Linked DNA regions of Homo sapiens: all the other regions are linked to region 1. The links come from fine-mapping of genetic effects on gene expression. A gene starts in region 1. Each other region holds a variant in brackets. All regions are shown on one strand. Distances are from middle to middle. Region 1 holds the start of PDGFA (platelet derived growth factor subunit A). Region 2 has its middle 37 kb from the start of PDGFA. Region 3 overlaps PRKAR1B (protein kinase cAMP-dependent type I regulatory subunit beta). Region 4 overlaps PDGFA (platelet derived growth factor subunit A).

The links. PIP is the estimated chance that this variant, and not a neighbour inherited with it, causes the effect.
Region 2: its variant is fine-mapped to the expression of PDGFA in whole blood (INTERVAL, PIP above 0.99).
Region 3: its variant is fine-mapped to the expression of PDGFA in T cells (GENCORD, PIP 0.95).
Region 4: its variant is fine-mapped to the expression of PDGFA in whole blood (INTERVAL, PIP 0.97).

What each region holds. Positions count from the first base shown.
Region 1 is chr7:516,846-521,987 of GRCh38, forward strand. It overlaps PDGFA (platelet derived growth factor subunit A), which reads right to left and starts at 3,001. Exons shown (of 6, transcript NM_033023.5): 1 at 2,094-3,001; 2 at 549-645. The coding sequence starts at 2,156. It overlaps PDGFA-DT (PDGFA divergent transcript), which reads left to right and starts at 3,546. Exons shown (of 3, transcript NR_033963.1): 1 at 3,546-5,142. RefSeq lists enhancers at 1-870, 1,793-2,714, 4,559-5,142 and silencers at 28-127, 1,971-2,060, 2,521-2,660, 2,941-3,030, 3,131-3,470 and 1 more.
Region 2 is chr7:480,540-485,681 of GRCh38, forward strand. No RefSeq gene overlaps it. Among named protein-coding and RNA genes, the nearest start is that of PDGFA, 37 kb to the right of the region's middle. The variant T/TGATGGATG (reference allele first, on the strand shown) is at 2,439.
Region 3 is chr7:587,925-593,066 of GRCh38, forward strand. All of the region lies in intron 7 of PRKAR1B (protein kinase cAMP-dependent type I regulatory subunit beta), which reads right to left. Among named protein-coding and RNA genes, the nearest start is that of PRKAR1B-AS1, 12 kb to the right of the region's middle. RefSeq lists a silencer at 3,085-3,231. The variant A/C (reference allele first, on the strand shown) is at 2,725.
Region 4 is chr7:494,731-499,872 of GRCh38, forward strand. It overlaps PDGFA (platelet derived growth factor subunit A), which reads right to left. Exons shown (of 6, transcript NM_033023.5): 6 at 2,528-3,844. The coding sequence ends at 3,834. Among named protein-coding and RNA genes, the nearest start is that of PDGFA, 23 kb to the right of the region's middle. RefSeq lists enhancers at 717-1,638, 1,639-2,559. The variant G/A (reference allele first, on the strand shown) is at 2,615.

The DNA.
Region 1 (5,142 bases):
AAAACAGAAAGACACCGGCTTCTGCAGCCACAGAGGCCCAGCCCTGCGGCAAGAACGCGGCACCAGCTCGCAGGGATTACAGAGGGGGCCGGGCCCTGACCCGGGGGCCGCCTCCGCCCGCCCGCCCGTCGGACCGGGAGCCGCGCCTGCCCTTGGGGCCTCGCTCCGCGGGCTGCCCGCCCGGCGCACGGGCCAGGGCTCTGCGCCCAGGGTCTGGGCCGGATCCTGCCGCTCCCCCGGCCCGAGGGCAGGCGCGGGGCCCGCACACCTGGCGGAGGCCGCGGCTGAACTTTGTGTGACACACGCGGCGTTTTCCTTAAAGGCGAAAACAATCCCGGGGCGAGCGAGCAGCCCTCGGCCGCCGCTGGGAGAGAAAGTGGAGACTGGAAGAGAAACTCCTGACTCATCCGCCCGGGCGCTTATGGCTGGGGATTGGATTCTGACCTTTCGGTGCGCTCCTGCGCGGCGCCCCGCCCGGCCCCAGCTCGGGGCGCACAGGCCGCCCGCCCGCGCCCTCCCCGCGCGCGGAGGGAAGGGGCGCGATTTACCTACGGAGTCTATCTCCAGGAGTCGCTGGAGGTCCCGGATGCTGTGGATCTGACTGCGGGCCAGCCTCTCGATCACCTCGCGGGGGATCTCGGCTTCCTGCAAGCAGAGGCCACACGGTCAGCGCCCGCGGCCCCGACCCCGCCGGCACGCGCCCCCGGCCGCCAGGAGCGCCGCCGCCCCGGGCCCGAGGAGACCCCGCGAGCGCCGGCCGCAGTCCCCGCCCCAGCCCCCGCGGAGCCCTCGCCCCGGCCCTGGAACCAGAAGCCGGGGGTGGGGCTGGAAGAGACCCCAAATTCTCCACCCGCATCCATGTTCCGCCCTTTGCAAAATCAAAGCCCCCCCCCCTTTATATTTTCAGACAAAAGCCCCCGCACTCCGGCCCCTCCACCCGGGGTGTCAGTTACAGAAGGTCTAGGGGGCAGCGAGGGGGCCGAAAGTTTCTGATTTAATAGTGAGATCAACATCTAGAAAGATCAAGTTAAAATGCGTCACGGGTCGGCGAGAGTCACGGCAGCCCTAACACTTTAATCCAGGCAGGGCTTAAATTTCACGCCCCGGAATCCCGGGCCGAACCCGTGGAGAGGTCTCTCCGTCTCACAAACACACGCACGCGCGCGCAGACACACACACGCGCACACACATCTCACTCACACACTCGCCCCACCCCGGGCTCCGGCCCAGCCGCGGCCCTAGCGCCGACTAAGACGCCCAAATCCAGCCGGCGGCCGGGAGAAGAAGCCTCCAGGGAAAGCGAGGGTTAAACTTCCACCTCGCGCAGCTCTCCGTGCCCTGCGGAGACCACCCTCACCTCTGGCCTCCCCCACTCCCCTCCCCGATTTTTAAGGAGAGTCGGGGGTCGCTGGGGAGCCTGAAGCACTAAGTTCCCACGACGGGGGCTGTGGAAAGTCATTCATCACAGCAAAGCTCCCGGGGATGGGGATGGGGATGGGGATGGGGGGGCGGGGACGCCGCGGTGGGAGGGTGCGGACGCCTGGCCCAGCCCCAGCTCGCCTCGCTCAGCCACCTGTAAGCAGGCCCGGGCGGGCGGGACTGCGCCGGCCCTGAGCCCCGCCGGGCTTGGGGACTGGGAACCGAGGGCTGCAGCTTGGCGCTGCCCACCCTGCCCGGCCAGGGGCTTCCGCAGCAGCCGCCCCTACCTATTTATCCGCCGCCCTTCTCTCCTCCCCAGGCTCCGCCGGCTCACACACACCCCCTTCCCCGCTCCCCGCACCCCGCTGCTGCAGCGCCCGCTGCGCCCCAGCTCCCCTTCCCCGGAGAGGACACTGCGCCCCCCGAAGTTTCTGCCCACTCGTCCACCTCGCTGCTCCCCGGTCCCCCCGAGGCAGAGCGACCGACGCAACACGCTGGAAACTCCCCACACACACTTAGGCATGGCAGAAAATAGAACCCAGTTGGGAAAATCTAAACATCGACCACCCTGGCAGGAACCAAAACGCTCTCTGCAGAGCCCGTGGCGCCCCAGCCGGCGGGGGGTGTGCGCCGGAGGAGCCGGCGCAGGGACGGGGCGCGGGGGCGGCACCAACCTCGGCCAGAACATGGGCGAGGTATCCGCAGCCGAGGAGCAGCAGGCAAGCCAAGGTCCTCATCGCGTCCCGAGGCGCTGGCTGCTCGGAGGAGAGGCGAGGCCGCGGGGCGGGCGCTCCAGCCGGTCTCCTGTGGCGGCGAAATTCAGTACCATCCCTTAGGGAGCGCGGCCCGGAGGAGGGTGGCGCGGGGAGCACGGAGCTGGCGGAGCGCGCCCGGCGCGAGCAGTGAGTGCGGAGAGGCAGGCAGCGCCAGCCAGGAGGAGGAGAAACAGGGAGTGCGCGCCCGCAGCGCGGGGAGCCTCCTGGGCCGCCGGGTAGGGGGTGGGGACGGAAGGGGCGGAGGGCGGGGGCTGGGCTTCTTCCTCGGTGCGTTCCCGGTGCTGGCCGCCGCCGCGCTCGCTCCCCGCGCTGGCTTCAGGAGCGACCCGGCCGGTAATTCTGCATATTTGCGGACATCAGCCCCAAGAAGAACTCCGGAGGGAGTCTGGGGCCGCCGCCGCCGCCGCCGCCACACCGATCACCTGCCTGGACGCCTGGCCCGGCCCCGGCTGCGAGCTGCGAGCCGCCCTGCGCGCCCACCGCCGGCCCCGCGCTCGCCTCCGGCCTCCTCTTGCAGCCGCCGCCCGGCCGGGCACAGCGCGGCCCAGCACCCCCTCCGCGGCGCGCCCTCGGCTCCGGCGCCGCGCTCCGCCCTCCGCTCGCCGGGGCCGGGCAGCGCCCGCGGCCGAGCCGCCTGGCAGCCACCACCCGCCGCCCGGGGCCTCGCTGCGCCGCCCGCGCGGGCCTGAGGGCGGGCGCAAGGCCGAGTCGGCGCCTCCGCCGCAGCCGCCGCCGGGAGAGGAGGAGGAGGAGTAGGCGCAGGCCCGGCTCGCCGGAGTTGGGCGGGCTCCGCAGGGCGCGCGTGTGGAGCCGGCCGGCGGCGGGGAGAGGGTTATAGCGCCGCCGCCGCGCCCCTCCCCCGCCCCCGCCCCCGCCCCCCCCCCCCGCCTCCCCCGGATTCCGGGCCTGGGACCCGCACCTCGGAAGCGCTCGGGGTTCGTGCGGACCCGGCAGGGCCCGGGCGCCGCCGCCGCGGCAGGGAGCACACACGCGCTCGCGCAAGCAGCTAAATCCATCAAAGCCCCGCGCCCGGCTCCGCGCCGGGGCTCCGCGCCCCTCCCTCGAGCTTGCCCACCCTCCAGTGCCAGCTGCAATCCTGCGGCACCGGGTGGGGAGGGAGGAGGCCGCCGCAGAAGCGCCGCCGTCGCCGGCTCGCCTCTCTCGGGCCCCAGCGGCGGCAGCGGGCAGCGCCCAGAGCTGCTGCGCCAAAAAGGGCCAGAGAGCCGGTCCCCGCCCCCGCCCCGGCGCTCCGGCCGCTCTCCACGGTTCGGATCCAGGGCCCCAGCCTTCCTCTCTCCATAAAAGGAGGGGGAGTCAGTCTTTGGGGAAGGAGGGGGGCGGGTTTGGGGCACTCACCTGGCGGCTGCCACGCGCCCCCGCCCAGGATCCGAGGCCTGGGGCATCTGAATGAGGACCCTCCACCCACATTTCCACTTGGGAGCGAGCTCCAGTCGGGGAAAGGGCCTGCAGCCCGCCTCGTCCCCACCCTGGGACCCCGCGCCCCCCAGTCCCCCACTCCCGCGCCGAAGGCAGGGCCGCGCCCTGAGCCGGGAAGTCGAGGGGATGGAAGGGAAAGGAGCCACCGGTGAGGGTCCCCCGGGTTCTGAGCCTCCCGCGTCGGGATCCGTGGGGCGCACAGAGCGCCACCTCCGGCCGAGGCGCAGCTCAGAGCGCGATGCGGGGGAGGAACGCGCGCGGAGGCCGAGGTCTGAGCGTGGCTAGACGGCTCCCACGCCGAGAAAGGGCGGGTGCGCCTGGGCTGGATGGATTTCGCCTCCCTAGACCAGGAGGGATTGGACCCTGACTACAGGTCCAGGTGCTCGTCAGTGCCCTGCCAGGGGGTCTACGCGTCCTGGTACCGGGTCCAGCGGGGTGGCGTGCTGTGCAGACCCCGAGGCTAGACGGCCTAGGCCCCTGGAGCCCAGGAGACGCTTCCTTGGGTGAGCAGCGGAGAATCCCGCCCGGCCCAGCCGTCACCCCCAACCCTGTCGATTAAACCCCTGCCCCCGTCGCGGTCGCCCTCCCTCCAGACAAAGGCCGTTAAGGCGCAGCCCCGCGGGCGGTCTTTCATCCCCAGCTAGGCCAGCTCTAGCATTTCAAAGGCCGAATCCGGAGAGCGCTTCGGGGGCTCTCCCCTTCCCCCAAATATTTGGGGAGCGACGCCTCTCCCTCCGCTCCCAGTGGGTCGCGTCTACACGCGCCCTTCCACACACCTGCAGGCCCCCTCCCCACGTCTCTCCCTTCCGTTGGCCGCAGCCCCACACCACGACCCCCGCGGTCAAGCATGCCCTCTGGGTGGTCAGGACCAAGCGGGACCGGGACAGAACCAGGGGAGCCTTGGAAACGTGGAGGAGCCCCTTAAAGCCAGGCCTTGTCCCTCCAGGGGGAACTTGCGGCTTGGGAGGGGACACCCACTGCATGGCTTCTGGAAAGAGCCGGACTCGCAGGGCCAGGACGCAGGCCGGACCCCGGCCTCATTCTTCGGCCAGTTATCCCGGAGTGGCGCGCATCCTGTCTTCCTGGGCCTCGGACTGCTCGCGCGCAGAGGGGGCCCGAGGACACCTCTGTGGGGTTAGAGGACTCGGTAAGACGGTGTGGAAGGCAAGGAGGAAGGTCGCGTTGTATTGGGGATGGGGTACCCGTCCCTCCCAGCTTGAGGGATCCTGGGGGTCCTCGCCGCCTCTGAGGGCCTAGATGGCTGCTTCCCTCGGCTCCCCTGCCCGGCCTGGAGCTACGGGTGCGCCCAGCTAGAGTTTAGGGCCACCTGGGGACGTGCAAGGGGCGCTGGAGCGAGGCGGGGGCTGGGGCGGGGCGTGGGTGCTTCACCCGCGGGGGACGCAGAGCTTAGGCGAAAGCGGTGCAGGCATCTCTCTAATCGCCGGCCGCTATTAAAAATAAAACCGCGACCCGTCGCCATGGCGACCACAACAACAGCGGCCGCGCGAGG
Region 2 (5,142 bases), 36 kb before region 1:
CCCAGCCCTAGACTCACACTGACAGGTGCTTCTCCAAAGGAGGGGGCTTGTGGGTGGGGGGCAGCCATGCAGATGGGCCCAACAGCCCCTGGGAGCCAAGGCAGGGGCAGCTCAGGCAGGCAGGGCAAGGAGCGAGCGCAGGCCGAGGATCAGGGTGGGGCAGCATGGGGGCTGGGACCTCTGGTGCCCCCACCACCACCCTGGTGAGGACAGGAGGCACTCCCGGGGCTCGCATGGCTGCTGACCGCAAGCTTATCTCTCCCTGTGTGCATGTCTGCCCCTGGAGACAGGACTCTCTAGCTGCCAGCCTCCCGGAGAAGCCCCAGGCTGAGCTCACCCAGTCCCCTCCAGGCCCTGAACTGCCTCTCCTCGTCCCGAGCAAGCACTCTCCTCTGCCCAGACCCCTGGCTCCAGGCCAAATCCAGGGCTGCTGAGGAGCCCGAGGCCAGGCCCAGGGGAGATGGAGGAAGTGTCAGGTGCAGGCCAGGTCGCTGTTTTCTGATTGATAGGAAAAGAGGGCCAGGCAGGGCCCTGCGGAGGGCAGGGAGGAGTCCAGGTGGAACCTGGGAGGGGAGGCAGCTGGCCAGGGCTCCAGGGAGCCTGAAAAGAAAACAGCCCCTCTCCGAAGCCTGGCACTGTCCTTCCTCTCCCCTCAGGCCATGGGCTCCCATGGAAATCAGGCCAGGTCAGAGGGCACCACAGTTTAAGTGTGAGCCCCTGCAGATCTCAGATCCGTGAGCTGGGGACAGGTTCCCTGGGGCTGCAGGAGCTCCAGAGGAAGGCCGAGGTGGGGCCAGCCCGGCAGGACACAGGTACCTGGTCCCGCTAATTAATTGCTTCCAGCAGGCTCTGAAGAGCAGCTGGGCCCAGGAATGCCCCCTCCAGTGAAGACCGACTCTGTCTAACTTGTGAAGGTTTGGATACTGACGGCGAACCGCTCTTAATAAATCTCTCTCTCCTTCTCATGCGCAGCTCATCTGCAGGGCTTGGTGCCTCTGGGGGGCCAGGACGGTGGGCAGCCCTCCTCCCGTCCCCACACTCCTCCCCTCCCCACCCTCCTCCCTCCCTTCCCGCCCTCCTCCTGTCCCCACCCTCCTCCCCTCCCCAACCTCCTCCCCTCCCCACCCTCCCCTCCCCACCGCTGGGGCTGGTCCTGCTTCTTAGTGCCCTCCTGCCTTGAATGAGCACAACCCATGCGGTGGTCCTCCTGCGTGCCACCTTCTCTGTGCTTCACCTGCATCCCTTGCTGGTCCTTGGGTTCAATAACACTGTGGGGAGTCTCCAGAGATCCCACTAGACCAGATCAGGGGCCCTTATGGACCCTCCCCACCCACCTGAGAGGCAGAATAGCCTAGAGATTAAAAACTCAGAAGGGCCAAGTTCACATTCTGACTCCTCCACTTACAAGATTTGGTGTAAGATCCTTCCTGAGCCTGTGCCTCAACTTCTCCATTTTTGAAGCATAGGTCTCTGGCAGCACCTACCCATGGGTGGTTGTGAGAATTAAAACCTAAAGCATCTAACACCCCATCTGCCCCCAAGCAGCACTAGTCACTGCTGTCATTTCCTTCAGGCACTTACTTCAGTCTACGATTATGTTCCTTTTTGTGTATGATTAATGTCTAAATTTCCCTCTTAATGGTTAGCTCCAGGAAGGCAAGAAATTCATGGTGTCTGGCAGAGTGACAGGTCCCTGTTAGGTGCTCAAGAACTTATGTTGTATGGATGGATGGATGGATGGATGGATGGATGGATGGATGGTTGGATGGAGGACAGTTGGATGGATAGATGGATGGATAGATGGATGAATGGGTGGATGGATGGATGGATAGGTGGATTGGTGGATAGTTGTATGAATAATAGACGGCTGAACAGATTGATGGTTGGATAAACGGATGGGTGAATGGGTAGGCAAGTGGGTGGATAGTTGGATGGATGATAGATTGTTAGATAGATGAATGAATGGATGAGTGGATGGAAGGGTGAAAGGGTAAGTAGATGATGGGTAGATGGATGTGTAGGTGAGTGAGTGGATAATTGGATGGACAGATAAATAGGTGGATGGATGGATGGATCAGTAGATAGTTGGATGAATGATTGATGGTTGGAACAGTTGGGTGGATGGGTAGGTGTGTTGATAGTTGGATGGATGATAGATGGTTGGATGGATTGATGGATGGAAGGATGGATGGATGGATGGATGGATGGATGTGTGAATGGATGGATGGGTAAGTGAATGAATGGGTGGATAGTTTGATGGATGGATAGATGATAGATGGATGGATGGTTGAACACATGACTGACTGGATGGAGGGATGGATGGATGGATGGGTAGATCAGTGGATAGTTGAATGAATGATAGATGGTTGGACAGATGGGTGGATGGGTGGGTGGGTGGATACTTGGATGGATGATAGATGGTTGGTTGGACTGATAGA[T/TGATGGATG]GATGGATGGATGGATGGATGGATGGATGGATGTGTGAGTGAATGGATGGGTAAGTGATGAATGGGTGGATAGTTCGATGGATGGATAGAAGATGGATGGATGGTTGGACACATGACTGGATGGATGGATGGACGGATAGTTGGATGGATGGATAGATAGAGAGATAGATAGATGGATAAGTGGATGGGTGGATGAGAGGATCTAGTACCAGGGGGATGGCTCCACCTTGATATCCAACTGAGGCCCCTGCCAATGGGTCCATCCTGATTTTGAGGAAGAACTTTGGCGGGGACCTGGGCCAGTCCTTGGCCCCCCCACCCGTGGGATATTGGGCGGGCGGGGATAAAGGGACAGCCTCGGTATCATGGACAAAGGGGCTGCACAACATGGGTGGGATGGGAAGACTGGCGGTGAAATACGCGGGTATGGGTTAAAAAATGGATGGATGGATGGATGGATGGATGGATGGATGAGTGGATGGATGGATGGATGGATGGATGGATGGATGGATGAGTGGATGGATGGATGACAGGAACTAGGACCAGGGGGATGGCTCCACCTTGATGTCCAACTGAGGCCCCTGCAATGCGCACCATCTGATTTGAGGAAGTATCTCTGCTGGAACTGGCCAGTACTTGCCCCCTCACTGTGGAATTTGGGCTGAGCCTGGAAAGCTGCTCCAAGCTATTTGCAAAGGGGTTTCCAGCCTTGGATCCCTAAAGGCTGCCAGAGAGAGGCTCCTGTGGTTCCCTGGGACAAGGAGACCTCCTTCATCCTCCATGCCTGTTTCTCAGACAGTGAAGACAAGGCACAAATGTGTGCTTTGGAGGTGGCTGAGGGGCTCAGACACTGCAGTGTGCAGGCGCCTGCCAGGCCTGATGTGGTGATGCTCGCTCAGGGCCTCTAGGGCAACCCAGGGTCATGTTTGATTTGACGAAGGGGTTAAGTGCGCTGCTCTTTAAAAGCCGGAACACAGACAATGTGAAGCTTCCTCCCTCAGACCCACCACATTGGTGGGCTTTACTTCAGCCCTAGGGACTCCTTCTGTCCCCTCACCCCTCTCAACTCCAACCCCCCCTCCCCAGACTGCAGAGAGGGGCCGGTTCTTGCCAGAGTCGCTCTTAGCCGTTTTGTGAAAAATCCATTTATTGTCTTCATTGCTTGGGAAGTTATAATCTTGAGGCTGCAGCTTCCTAAGGCGTTGCCATGGAGATGAATTTTCTGTCATAAATAAAAGTATTCTGGGGTCAGGAGATCTCAAGCATAACTAGGACAGATTTTGAGGGGGAAAATGCAAGAATTTCAGAAGCACATGAGATGATTTGGGCTGCCTTTTCCGGAGGGTGTTTTTTAGGCTGTCCTGAATTTGGCCTCTAGATGTGGGACCGTCCCTCTGCCGTACCCCCAACCCCGTTCCCCCAAGCCGACACTGTGTCTGCCTGCCCCTCCCCTCCTCCACCTGCTCAGGGCCAGAGCCTTGGGGGACCTGGTTTGGAAATCCAGGTTGGGGTGACGTCTGGGGTCACCCAAAGACGGGCTGGCTCCCAGTGTGTCCTCAGACAAGCCTTTCTGTCCCTGGCCCTAGACCCTGCCTGGGTGAGGGCCTCATTCACTCAGCCTAGGATTTTTGGAACATTCCTCACACGCCTCCTACGGGCCAGGGCTCACTCAGGTATTTCCCCTTGGGCTTGGGGCAGGCAGGGGGACACTCCCACTCCCGCATGACCCCTGCTTCCGAGGGCCCTGACCCCACCCCCACTCTTGCTCACTTCCCACCAGCCCCCATGGACATTAGCTTTAGGGATTTCCTTTTGTTCAGGGTCGCTGCAGGTCTGTGTTCGAGAAGGTGGGGGAGGCGGGACTGGAGCCCGGGAGGAAGGTATGCAGGGCTGAGGGGCCTCTGGAAGCCACCCAAGCCGACAGCCTCCGCCAGCAGTCAAGGGCTGTTTGCCAACCCCCATGCACCCCCTCATTAGGTAAACACAGAGTCCTCCATCAGCACAGGGCCCCAGAGCCATCCCTTGCACAGAGGCCCCAGGGTCCCCCGCGCTCGAGGGCCCCCCATGACCCTGGGACTGGGACTGCGGCACCCTGGGCCTCTCCTCCCAGCCCCGAGGCTCTCACTGGAGGACCCATCTTCCAAGGCTGCCACAATCCCAGGAGGCGGCTCCAGCCCCAGTAGCTCCAAAAAAACGAATGGAGAGGTGAGGAGGGAGAGAACAAAAGAAAGGAGGGAATGAAGGAGGGAGGAGGCTACGGGGTGAACCCTTTGCAGTTTGGACCTCAGACTGTGGTCCCCTCACCTACCTCCCCGGACAGCACCACCCTCCCTTCCCACCTTTGATGGGTCCCTGTCCCAGGAGAAAGCCCATAGAGACATCACACGGGAAGATCCTGCAGGAAGCCCTTCCTCCCTTGCAAACACTCGCAAAAAACGGCCCTTGATCATGGAGAAACAGGCTTCCAGGGCCCCCAGGGGCTGGGGTCCACGGTTGCAGGCCAGCAAGCCACAGCTCCCAGGCTGGGGCTCTAGTGAGTCTAGCCTCCCCAAGACCCACTTCTGCCAGGGGTTCTCTGCCTCCTGATAAATAACTGTGACACTATCTGCCCACATCCCTTGCTGAGCAGCAAAATCAACACAGGACAGGCTGTGACTCGCCAGGCCACGAGGAGCTGCAGGACGTACACACTGCATCGCCATCT
Region 3 (5,142 bases), 71 kb after region 1:
GGGAGGAATGGCGCGCAAGTCCCCGAGGCACAGCAGTGACTTGTGTGGGGCTCAGGCCGGGTTGTTTCCACAGTTGCTTATTCTGGGCCCTGGTGGCCAGGCTGACCTTTCCCATGGGCACAGGCCATTTCCGGTAGCGTGGCCCTCCCCACTCGCTCCCAAGCCGCCCTCAGTGTCCAGAAACAGACTCCTGGAGCTGCACCAAGCTTCCCACTCACAGATCAGACGACTGAGCCCAGCGAAGGTGTGGCTTGAGCCCAACTTCCATGATGGGGACAAGGACCCTAAGGACACCCACCCTCCCCTGCCTTCCAGAGCCTCAGCATGGAGGACACAGTGGGCAGTCCACTCAACGTGGACAAGTACAGGTTTGAATGTGTCACCTGCATCATTGGGCTTTGGTGAAATGAGACCATAAAAATCCCTGCCTCACTGGGTCATTATGAGAACTGATTCTCAACAAATGTTATGTTGCTGCTAATGGTGATGGTGGTGATGTTGGTGAGGATAGTGACAGTGGTGATGGTGATGGTGATGGTGGTGATGGTGATGGTGGTGATGGTGGTGAGGATAGTGACAGTGGTGATCACGATGATGGTGGTGACGGTGGTGATGGTGGTGACGGTGGTGATGGTGGTGATGTTGGTGAGGATAGTGACAGTGGTGATGACGGTGGTGATGGTGATGGTGGTGATGGTGATGGTGGTGATGGTGATGGTGGTGATGGTGGTGAGGATAGTGACAGTGGTGATGACGATGATGGTGATGGTGGTGATGGTGATGGTGATGGTGGTGATGGTGGTGAGGATAGTGACAGTGGTGATGGTGATGGTGATGGTGGTGATGGTGATGGTGGTGATGGTGGTGAGGATAGTGACAGTGGTGATCACGATGATGGTGGTGATGGTGGTGATGGTAATGGTGGTGATGGTGATGGTGGTGATGTTGGTGAGGATAGTGACAGTGGTGGTGATGGTGACGGTGGTGATGGTGATGGTGGGGATAGAGATGGTGGTGATGGTGGTGATGGTGGTGAGGATAGTGACAGTGGTGATGACGATGTGATGGTGATGATGGTGACGATAGTGGTAGTGATGATTATAGTGCTGATGATGGTAGTGATGGTGGCAATGATGATGGTGGTAGTGGTTTTTACCGGGTACACAAAAGTGTGCTGACGGGGAAAGTCAGGACATTGCAATTCCAACCCCAGCCTACCCATGACTCCCCATGCCCTTGGACTAGTCTTGTCCCCTCTGGTCTTCGGTTTCTCCATGAGAAGAGTGATTGAAATGAGCAGCTGTTCCGTGTGTCTCTGGCCTGGGCTCCTTCTCTGTCCTCCCAAATTCCTCACCACCGCTCCACGGGTGCCATGTCCACCTTGGTCCTTGTCTGCTTCCCATTGACTAGCAGGGGTATGTCAGGTGCCTGAGCTCAGAAATGGGGTCAGACACCCCTGCAAACAGCTGCTGACCCAGCCCTCGTCCTCAGCAGCCCCCACCACTGCCAAGATTCCTCCTCCTCCCAGAAGGTGATGACGATAAGCACGGCTCACTATGCTGAATGCTCCCCAGCAATCAGGCACCTCCCGAGATCCACACTTTCAGCTGAGCCTACTATTATCTCCACTCTATGGAAGAAACAGAGGCTCAGGGTCGGTGTGGCCTGCCTATGCCCACCGAGCTGCTAAGTGCTGAGGCCAAGAACTGAAACGGGACAATCTTGTTCCAGAATGGATGCTCGCACGGCCAGGCCCCACACTGTCCTGGAGACAACAAGGTCATCCCGAACCTCCACTCACACACTCAGCATCTTATCTGCTCTGGAAGAACAGAAGTGGCATCCACAGAGCACCTACCGTGTGCACGGCACCACGTCATCATGCTGCACCCTCACGTGAGACTGGAGAAGGGCAGCTCAGAGCATGCAACGTGCCCAGGCTGCCCGGGACAGAGAGAGGAGCCGGGACGATCCAGCCCCTGGATGTTGCTTTCATGATGCCAACACCAAGCCCACGGCCCTGTGAGGGTCAGGCAGCTGGGGCAGCTCTGGACATGTTCAATGGCACGGGGCCACTTTCAGACGGAATCTGCTGCAGGGAGAGGGGGCTCAACACCACGCAGAGAGAACCGGAAATGTCGGTGGCCTGGCTCCCTGGGCCCTGCCTCCCCCGGTGCCTGGAGACCAGAAGACAGAGGGGGCTCTGGCACTCTGCTGTGCAGCCCCACGCCCTTCAGGACACTCCAAGAGGAGTGTGGCTCCCACAGCCCTGAGCACCACCGGCCCAGCAAAGGGTGTGAAACCATAAGGGGACTCTGCTCCAAAGTATGTGCACATCAGCACAGCACGGCAGGACTCTGTCGCCCAAGGCACGCACCGGTGAGGAGAAGAGCTGCAGCTGAGAGCACAGAGCTGAACATGGCTGCAGGCCTGGTGGGCACAGCTGGGTGCAGCCACTGGAATCCTGGCCTGGCGGCACTGACCTTGCCACTCCAACGTGTGGCCCTCGCGTGCCCAGTCCAGGGGACCAAGAGACCAGCAGGGTGGGGGCGGGGCCCCGAGAGATGGGCACTTGGAGCCCAAGAGGCCAGCATCCGGGGAGAAAACAGCCCCAGGCCTTGCAAGTCACAGCAGACGCAGACGCAGGAGATGCAGGTGGGAACCCAGCCCTCCCCGATACCCAGGTCTCAGTTTCTCCATCAGCTCTGGGTCAGAGCAGCACTA[A/C]AATGGCTGTAAGCCCCAATTTTAGAGTCCAGGGGGTGTCCTATCTTCTGCCAAAGCCCTCCCCAAGGTCCCCTCTTTCTGGCAAAAGCCCACAGCCCAGCAGGTCCAGAAAAACCTCAGGAACTTGGCCCAAGACCAAGACGGTGCAGACGGCACTTCTCCACCCGCTGCGGGTGCCTGAACGAACCGGGCTTCCTCAGTGACAACGATCTTTTCAGAAACGCCGAGCCCAGGCCCGTCGGCAGCAGAAAGTGCCGCGTGTCTGCCCCCGAGAGCGGAGAGCGGGCCGGATGCCCGGGGCAGTGGCAGGCGCAATGACCCAGCCCAGGCCATTTTAGATTTCTGCCAGCCATAAAAAAAGCACTTCTTTTGAAAAATAATTTATAATTCACACTGACTGCCCAGCAATTACGCCCAGCCGGAGGAATGCAAGCGTGTTTTGCCCGGGGAACCTCAGACATTAAAGCCTCGTGCACCCGTCCATCTCTCGCGGCGGGGTGACAGCTGAAGGCTGCCAGGGGCCCCCGGGGGAGGGCCCGGCCCCAAAGACTGCCCCTTTTGGGATCATGTTCCTTCTGTGGCTGAGACGGTCGGTGAGGCAGGGCTGGGAGCTGGCCTCCGAGCTGGCCGGTGGGCACTGGGACCCCCACGTGGGGGCTCTGCAGTGTGTCTGCCGGCATCCCCAAGGGGGGCTTTGTGTGGGAAAAGGCAGGTGACCCCCATTTCCAGGTACAGGGCTTCCTCAAGCCCACGGCACGGGGAGGGCGGGGGCGCTAGAAGTGGCTTCTTAACACCGGTCCCACCCACTTCCCATGAGTCGGCTCGGGGGGCACGGGGCCTGGGTCCCGGCCTCAGCTCTGCCCCATCTTGCCAGCACCTACACACAGAAAGCCTGGAAAACTGGAGCGTTGATAACGGCTGCCAGGTGCAGCAGCTCACGCCTATAATTCCAGCACTCTGGGAGGCCAAGGCGGGAGGGTCGCTTGAGCTCATGAGTTTGAGACCAGCTTGGGCAACATATCAAGACTTCACCTCTATTAACAGAAAAAAAAAGGAAAAGAAAAATATATACAGCAGCCACTTCTCCAGCCTGGAGACGCACTGTCAGTGGGGTGAAATGACTGGTGATGCCTGACCCTCCCCACAATGGCCCCAGATGGCTGCAACACGGCCTCATCCCCTCACACTTCAAAGCCAGGAGGAGCAGATTCACACCACAGCCACACACCCCCAAAGTCGTGAGGTGAAGCCCACCAGAAAGCCAGCCCCGGCTCCCACGCACGGCTGTGGGGTTGGCAACTTCAGTCTGAAGGCACCGCTGTGGAACCCAGCGTGACAGACCCCAGGGCCAATGAGAAGAGAAAGAGGCCCAGGCAGGCGGAGCAGGGGTCGCCAGCTGTGAACGGTGCCCACTTTTCCTCCCACCAGGGCCTCCGTGAGGTGGACTTGCCAGGCAGGTCCCGGCTCTGATCCCCCCATGGATCAGGGTCCCCACGTGCACACTGTGTGACCCTCAGCACATCACGGCTGCCTCAGAGCTCCTGAGCCCACCGTCCCGCCCGAGTGAGGGTGCACACGGGCCCTCCCGGCTGCCGTGGCCTCACGTGGACACTGCAGGGCACTAAGCCCCGGTCGAGGCTCGGGGACCCTCCGTGACCTTAGCAGCGTCCTCGAGGCTACAAGTGACAAACTGCTTGTGCTGAGAAATGGAGAAGCCGCGTCCCTTCCCGGCCCCATTGGCTGTGCGGAGTCACTCCGGACACTGGTCCCCTCCTGGCCCCACTGGCTGTGCCGAGTCACTCCGGACATCGGTCCCTTCCCGGCTCCACCGGCTGTGCCGAGTCACTCCGGACACTGGTCCCCTCCTGGCCCCACTGGCTGTGCCGAGTCACTCCGGATACTGGTCAGCGGGGGCTGAGGGGCGGGGAGGGTCCAACCTCCACCAAAGACTCAGGTTCCAAGGGGGTCTTGGGCTCTGGATACCCCAGCACAGCCTCCACCACAGAATTCTACATCCATTGCTTCCAAACGCTGAGGTCCTGGGTAAGGATCAGGGTGAACAGAGGACTCCAAAGCTTACAAGAAAGAAAAATCAGGCCGGATACGGTGGCTCACACCTCACACCTATAGACCCAGCACTGTGGGAGGCTGAGGCGGGAGGATCACTTGAGCCCAGGAGTCCAAGACCAGCCTAGGTGGCATAGTGAGACCAGGTCTCTACAAAAAACAATTTTTTAATTAGTCAGGCGCGGTAGCACACGCCTGTAGTCCCAGCTACTCGGGAGGCTGAGGAGGGAGGATGGCTTGAGCCGGGGAGGCGGAGGCTACAGTGAGCCGAGATTGTGCCACTGCACTCCATCCTGGGTGACAGTGAGACATTGTTTCAAAAAAATTAAAAAAAACAAAAAGGTAAGAAAG
Region 4 (5,142 bases), 22 kb before region 1:
GGGGATCTACGAGGGGACCAGGGTTCTGTGAGAGGATGGGGGGCTTCTGTGAGGGAACGGGGGTCTGTGGGGTGCAGGAAATTCTGTGATTTTTGCTACTTGAGTTCAAATACCTGCTCTTCCTTTTGGACCTGGAGGTCGCCATCTTCCCTGGGGTCTGTATCTTGGTCCTTGCTGACCCCATTTCCAGGGAGCATGCAGAGGCAAATCTCTGTGAATCTTGGCCCTTTGGTGATAGGTGCAGGGCAAGGAGCTTCAGTCCCAGGCTGGGCACCTGCCCAGGACACAACCCCAGAAGAGCCTGGCTGGCCCTGCTGTTTGCAGGCACTTGGGGAGCTCCCGCCCCAATGCTGCTCCGGAGTCTGGGGCCCAGCCCACCCCTGGGGTGGGGCAGAGTCAAGGCCCAGGAGATGGAAGGGCCCCTGGATGCCCGGCCACAGCACAAGTCCTGCCTCTCTGTGTCCTGCGACCCTTCTACTTGGGGCCCCCTAGGCGTTCCGGGCCTGCCAGGGGCACAGCTCACTCATCTTTAAAATGGGAGCCAAGCCCTCAAGTTCCCACCCCTAGAATTCTTGGAGGAACCCATGGCTAAGTATGAAAAGCCCAAAAAAACCAAGGAGGTCCCAGGAGGGCCGTGGCTTCTTGTGCTTGACAAGAGGGCACAAACCAGAAGGGCTTCTCTGCAGAACGGGATCCCCGAGCCTGGCCCAGCCCAGCAACTGCTCTGCGCACTGGACCCAGGCAAAGACCCAGGCCTCGGCTTCACCTACCGCTGGGAATCCCAAGACAGCTGTAGGGACCCACGGCTGGAGACCACCTGCCGTCACTGACTCTCCCAGCCAGTTCCAACCCCCTCCACAGCCAGGACACAGAGGCCTGGGTGAAGAAAAGGAAACACCCCCAAGCTAAAGGAGAAGCCCAGCAAAGGCTGGGCCCCAGCTCTCATGACCCCTGGCAAGGGCACGGTGTGAGCAGGTGCATTCAGGTGTCCAGGCAGGTGCAGGAACCTCGTTTTAACAGGCGGCACCATCGCCGCTCAGCAATCCCTGAGCCCAAGGGCTCTGTCCTCTGCCATGCTGGGGCCTAGAAACACTAGAGGCTGGAGTGAAGTCCCAGCAGGAGGAGGCAGCAGACAAGACCTGCACCAGGTGAGTCAATGGCGAGGCGTCCTTACCCTGCCTGAGCTGCAGCTCCGTTTCACAGATGTGCACGCCGACATGCAGATGGAGGCCCCTCGGTCAAGGTCACAGGGCTCACAAGACATGAAGAGCTGACCCTGGGCAGAAAGTCACCTTCCTGAGCCCAGATCCAGGTGCAGCCCAGGGCTAGGGGCCGGGAGGGGGCCCAGGCAGGAGCAGAAATCCCGGGAACGCAGGGCAGAGCCGCGACAAAGGCTGCAGGCCCACGTGGGTGGAGAGGCTCGGAAAGGATCCAGCCTCAGACCACAGCCCCCGCCACACTGCAGCCCTTCCTGGCTGGAGTGGCCTCCACTCTGCCTGCCCCTCCCCAGGGCTCTCCCCATGTCGGGACAGGAGGGGCTGGCACTAGGGCCCTCGCCTGCATGGATGAACCAATGAGGGAGAAAAGGAGGGAGTGAGGGAGGGAAGGAGTAAGTAGGGAGAGAAAGCAGGCCTGAGTTCCCACCTCTACTGCTACCTCAGCCACCCCTGGGCTCCAGACCTATGGAATTCTTATGGAATTCTCTCTTCCCCACCTGGCTTTTCTGCCCCATCACTTTAATGGACACGGTATTACACCAGACGACTTTATACAAAAAAGAAAAATGGAGCATTGTCGCCAGCATCTCATGGAAACAAATACATGTTACATTGCCACACGTCACATCCAATGCACATTCCTGGGCAAGGCGCTGTAACCGGTGCAGATCTGGACAGCAGCCCACAGGCCCAGGCAGGGCCCCAGCAGGTGTCCAAGGAACAGGAACCAGCTTGCAACCACCTGGCCCTGCACTTCCCCTCCAGCCTCCAGGCTGCCCTGACGAGGCTGAAAACAGCACCATGAAGATGAGCTGTTGAAGATAATCCTTCGTAAGAACCTTCCAGCAGCACATGGACAACAGACGCCAGCCGGCCGCCAGTCCACAGATGGTCCTCGAAGAACGCGGGGTCAAGATTGAAAGCAACCTCGATGGTTTGTCTCGTGGGCCTGGAGGTGGTGGAGGGGCCAGCCCGGGCAGGGTATGGTGAGTGCTGCACATGGACACACCAAGACAGGTGGGCTCCCTTCTTGGATGAAACTCTTCATGGTCTTCTGGCTACTCTGACACTCCTCATCCGCTCCAGGGAGTGGAGCCTGCAGGAGGATGTCCTCGGCCTAACCCCCATAGGTGCTGAAGTCCGAGGTAGGCAGGCATCCCACGGGTGCCACCATGGAGGCAGGTCCAGGGACCCCACCCAGAAAGCTCTGACCTCCGTTTCCACCCAACACAGCACCGCATGACCTGGCAACCAGGGTCTAGACTCAGTGCTAGAAAAACGTACCACAAAACGCTTCTCACGTCCACGGGTTTTGTTGGTGGTATTTTTTTTTTTAATTTTGGATCAACAAAAAAAGAACATAGCAGGCTCTCAGGTATACAAAACAGGTAATATTA[G/A]GTAAACATACAAACTTCACCTTTACAAAAAAACAAACCACACACACACATTTCTGTTAATACAGGTAAAGCACAATATCTTACCAAAAATAAAGAATTTGGGTTCTGTCCAAACACTGGCAGCAGAGGGAGTGACCGCCACCACGGCACCAGGGCACACCAACAACACAGACAGAAGCGGCAATGCATCTCACGTGCCGCGTGGGAACACAGCATTCTAGGTGTGCACTGCGGGGAACAAGTTGTCACTCAGCCACAAACGGGCTCTGGGGCAGGTGCCGCAGGGACGGCGTACGATTGGTTGACGCATAGTTCTTTCAAAATGGCTTAAATTAACAAATAAAGCAGGGTAAGGGAGAAACACAAAGCCAGAAACATTTAGGAAATGATGCATAGGTAGGTATACCATGTTTATTTTAATACATCTCATTAGTTTGCATCTTGCTAGGAAAAATACCGTCGCACTGTCCTGACAGTTACAGCAGCCTGTGTGTTATCGGTGTAAATGTCATCCAAGAGATAATTAAAAAAAAAAAAAAAAAAAAAAAGCTAGCCAAAGAGTAAAAAGGAAAGCTTAATAATCACTTTATGGTGTAAAAAAAAAAAAAAAAAAACAAAAAAAAAAAAAACAAAACAAAAACAAAAAAAAAAACCACTTAAGGCTCTCAGGAAGGTTTCTGTATGGGCTTAAATACTACAGCGAGGAGGTGTGGTTTCTAAAGTTCGCGTGGCGGTTTCCAAGACATTCCTGCTTCCTGCGGGCCCCTGCAGAGCCCACCAGCACCCCTCTGGAGTCGTTCCCAAAGCAGGCTCTGCATCCTCGGCAAAAAAGCACCTGTGACCACCCGGACAGAAATCCAGTCTGCTGAGACCTCTGCACTTCCATCCCACGGGGCGACCCTCCATCTCATCGAGTTTAGATATTTTTGTGAGTCCGTTTTGTTTTTGTCATTTGTGGTTTTGTTTTCTCTCTCTCTTTCTCTCTCTCTCTTTTTGACAAGGAAGCTTCTTACTGCTTCACCGAGTGCTACAATACTTGCTTTGATGTCACATTAAACAAATGTGCACTGTCTCTTTGTTCTCCCGAGTGTTCTCGGACACAGTTTTTCACGGAGGAGAACAAAGACCGCACACTGGCAATAAAGCACCGTACATAGTAGGTTCAGGAATGTAACACGCCATGTACATCCATGTCCCAGGAAAGGGCTGCGGCTCATCCTCACCTCACATCTGCAGGGAGAAGGGAAAGACAGACACTGAGACCACCGACCAAGTGAACCACCCAGCACACACATGGCTGCATAGGAGGAAAACAGGGTGAAAACATTTAACCCAATCAGGGGCACACAGGGATTTCAAGTTTTCAAGAAATTTCCAGAATCACATTTGCCACATTGGCCATGTTGCAGTACCCTGACAGGAATTGGGATTAGGCTCACAGCATCTCACAGAACATGTCTAGAGACCAAGCCCCATTCTCCCATTGTACAGATGGGGGAAACTGAGGCCAAGAATGGCTCATTTGCCCTTCTCTCTGCCTTCCTTTCTTCCAGCCTAGGGCTTAGATGTGATTTCTGGAGCTCTGGCAGCCACCTTGGGCCATGAGACAACCCTGAGGATGGAGGCCACCAGCCAGACAGAAGAGTCTGCACCCAGGCAGACCTATGCTGATCGTTTAAGAACAATTCTTCCACATCCCATGTGGCCTCTCCATCGCACACTCCAACACGTGGGCTGCCTATAGGCTGAACATGAGTACCAGCCAGGCATGGGACAACAGGAGTGCCAGCCTCTCACCATGGGGTCTGTCACCAGCAGGCCCATGGAGGCCAGAGCCTAACGCTCTGTAGAAATGGGACCCACAGGCAGGCACAAAACCACCCACCAGGCCACACTTTCAGCAAACAAAGCCAAGGCTGACCAACAGTCCTGGACTGCTTCAAAGACCCGCCCAAGTGGACAATTTCCTCCCAAGAGGCTCCTCATGAATGGACCTCACCCGCAGGCCCAAGTCCCACATTGCAAACAGGAGCCAGGGTTCTCAGACACCCTATCTCTGAGATCCTCCTCTCTTCTAAAGAAACTATTTGTTTTGGCCACCATGGAGTCCCACGTGCCAGGAGGGGGAACCAGGCCAGACAGGGCTCCAACTTTCCCAAGCCAGACGGGCCAATGCCAAGGACCAGGAAGGCTTGAAACTGCCTCCTCCGTGATGATGGCGGCTGCCCAGGTCCCACCTCCATCTGGGAAGCGACATGTCTTGCTAGGAGACATTTCCCAAGCTCCCTTGCAGTGGAGGGATGGCAGCTGAGAAAAACACAAAAGTCACTGGGTGGGATTTCCAGGATAGCTCTCTAAGGGTGTTATTTTGCCCTTCCCCCCCCCCCCCGCTCACTCCTTCTTCCAGCCTGGAGCACAGATGTGGTTTCTGGAGCTTTAGCAGCCACCTTGGGCCATGAGGCAACTGCAGATGGATGCCACTAGCCAGACAGAAGGCGGACACTGATGATACCTCAAGACTACCCTCC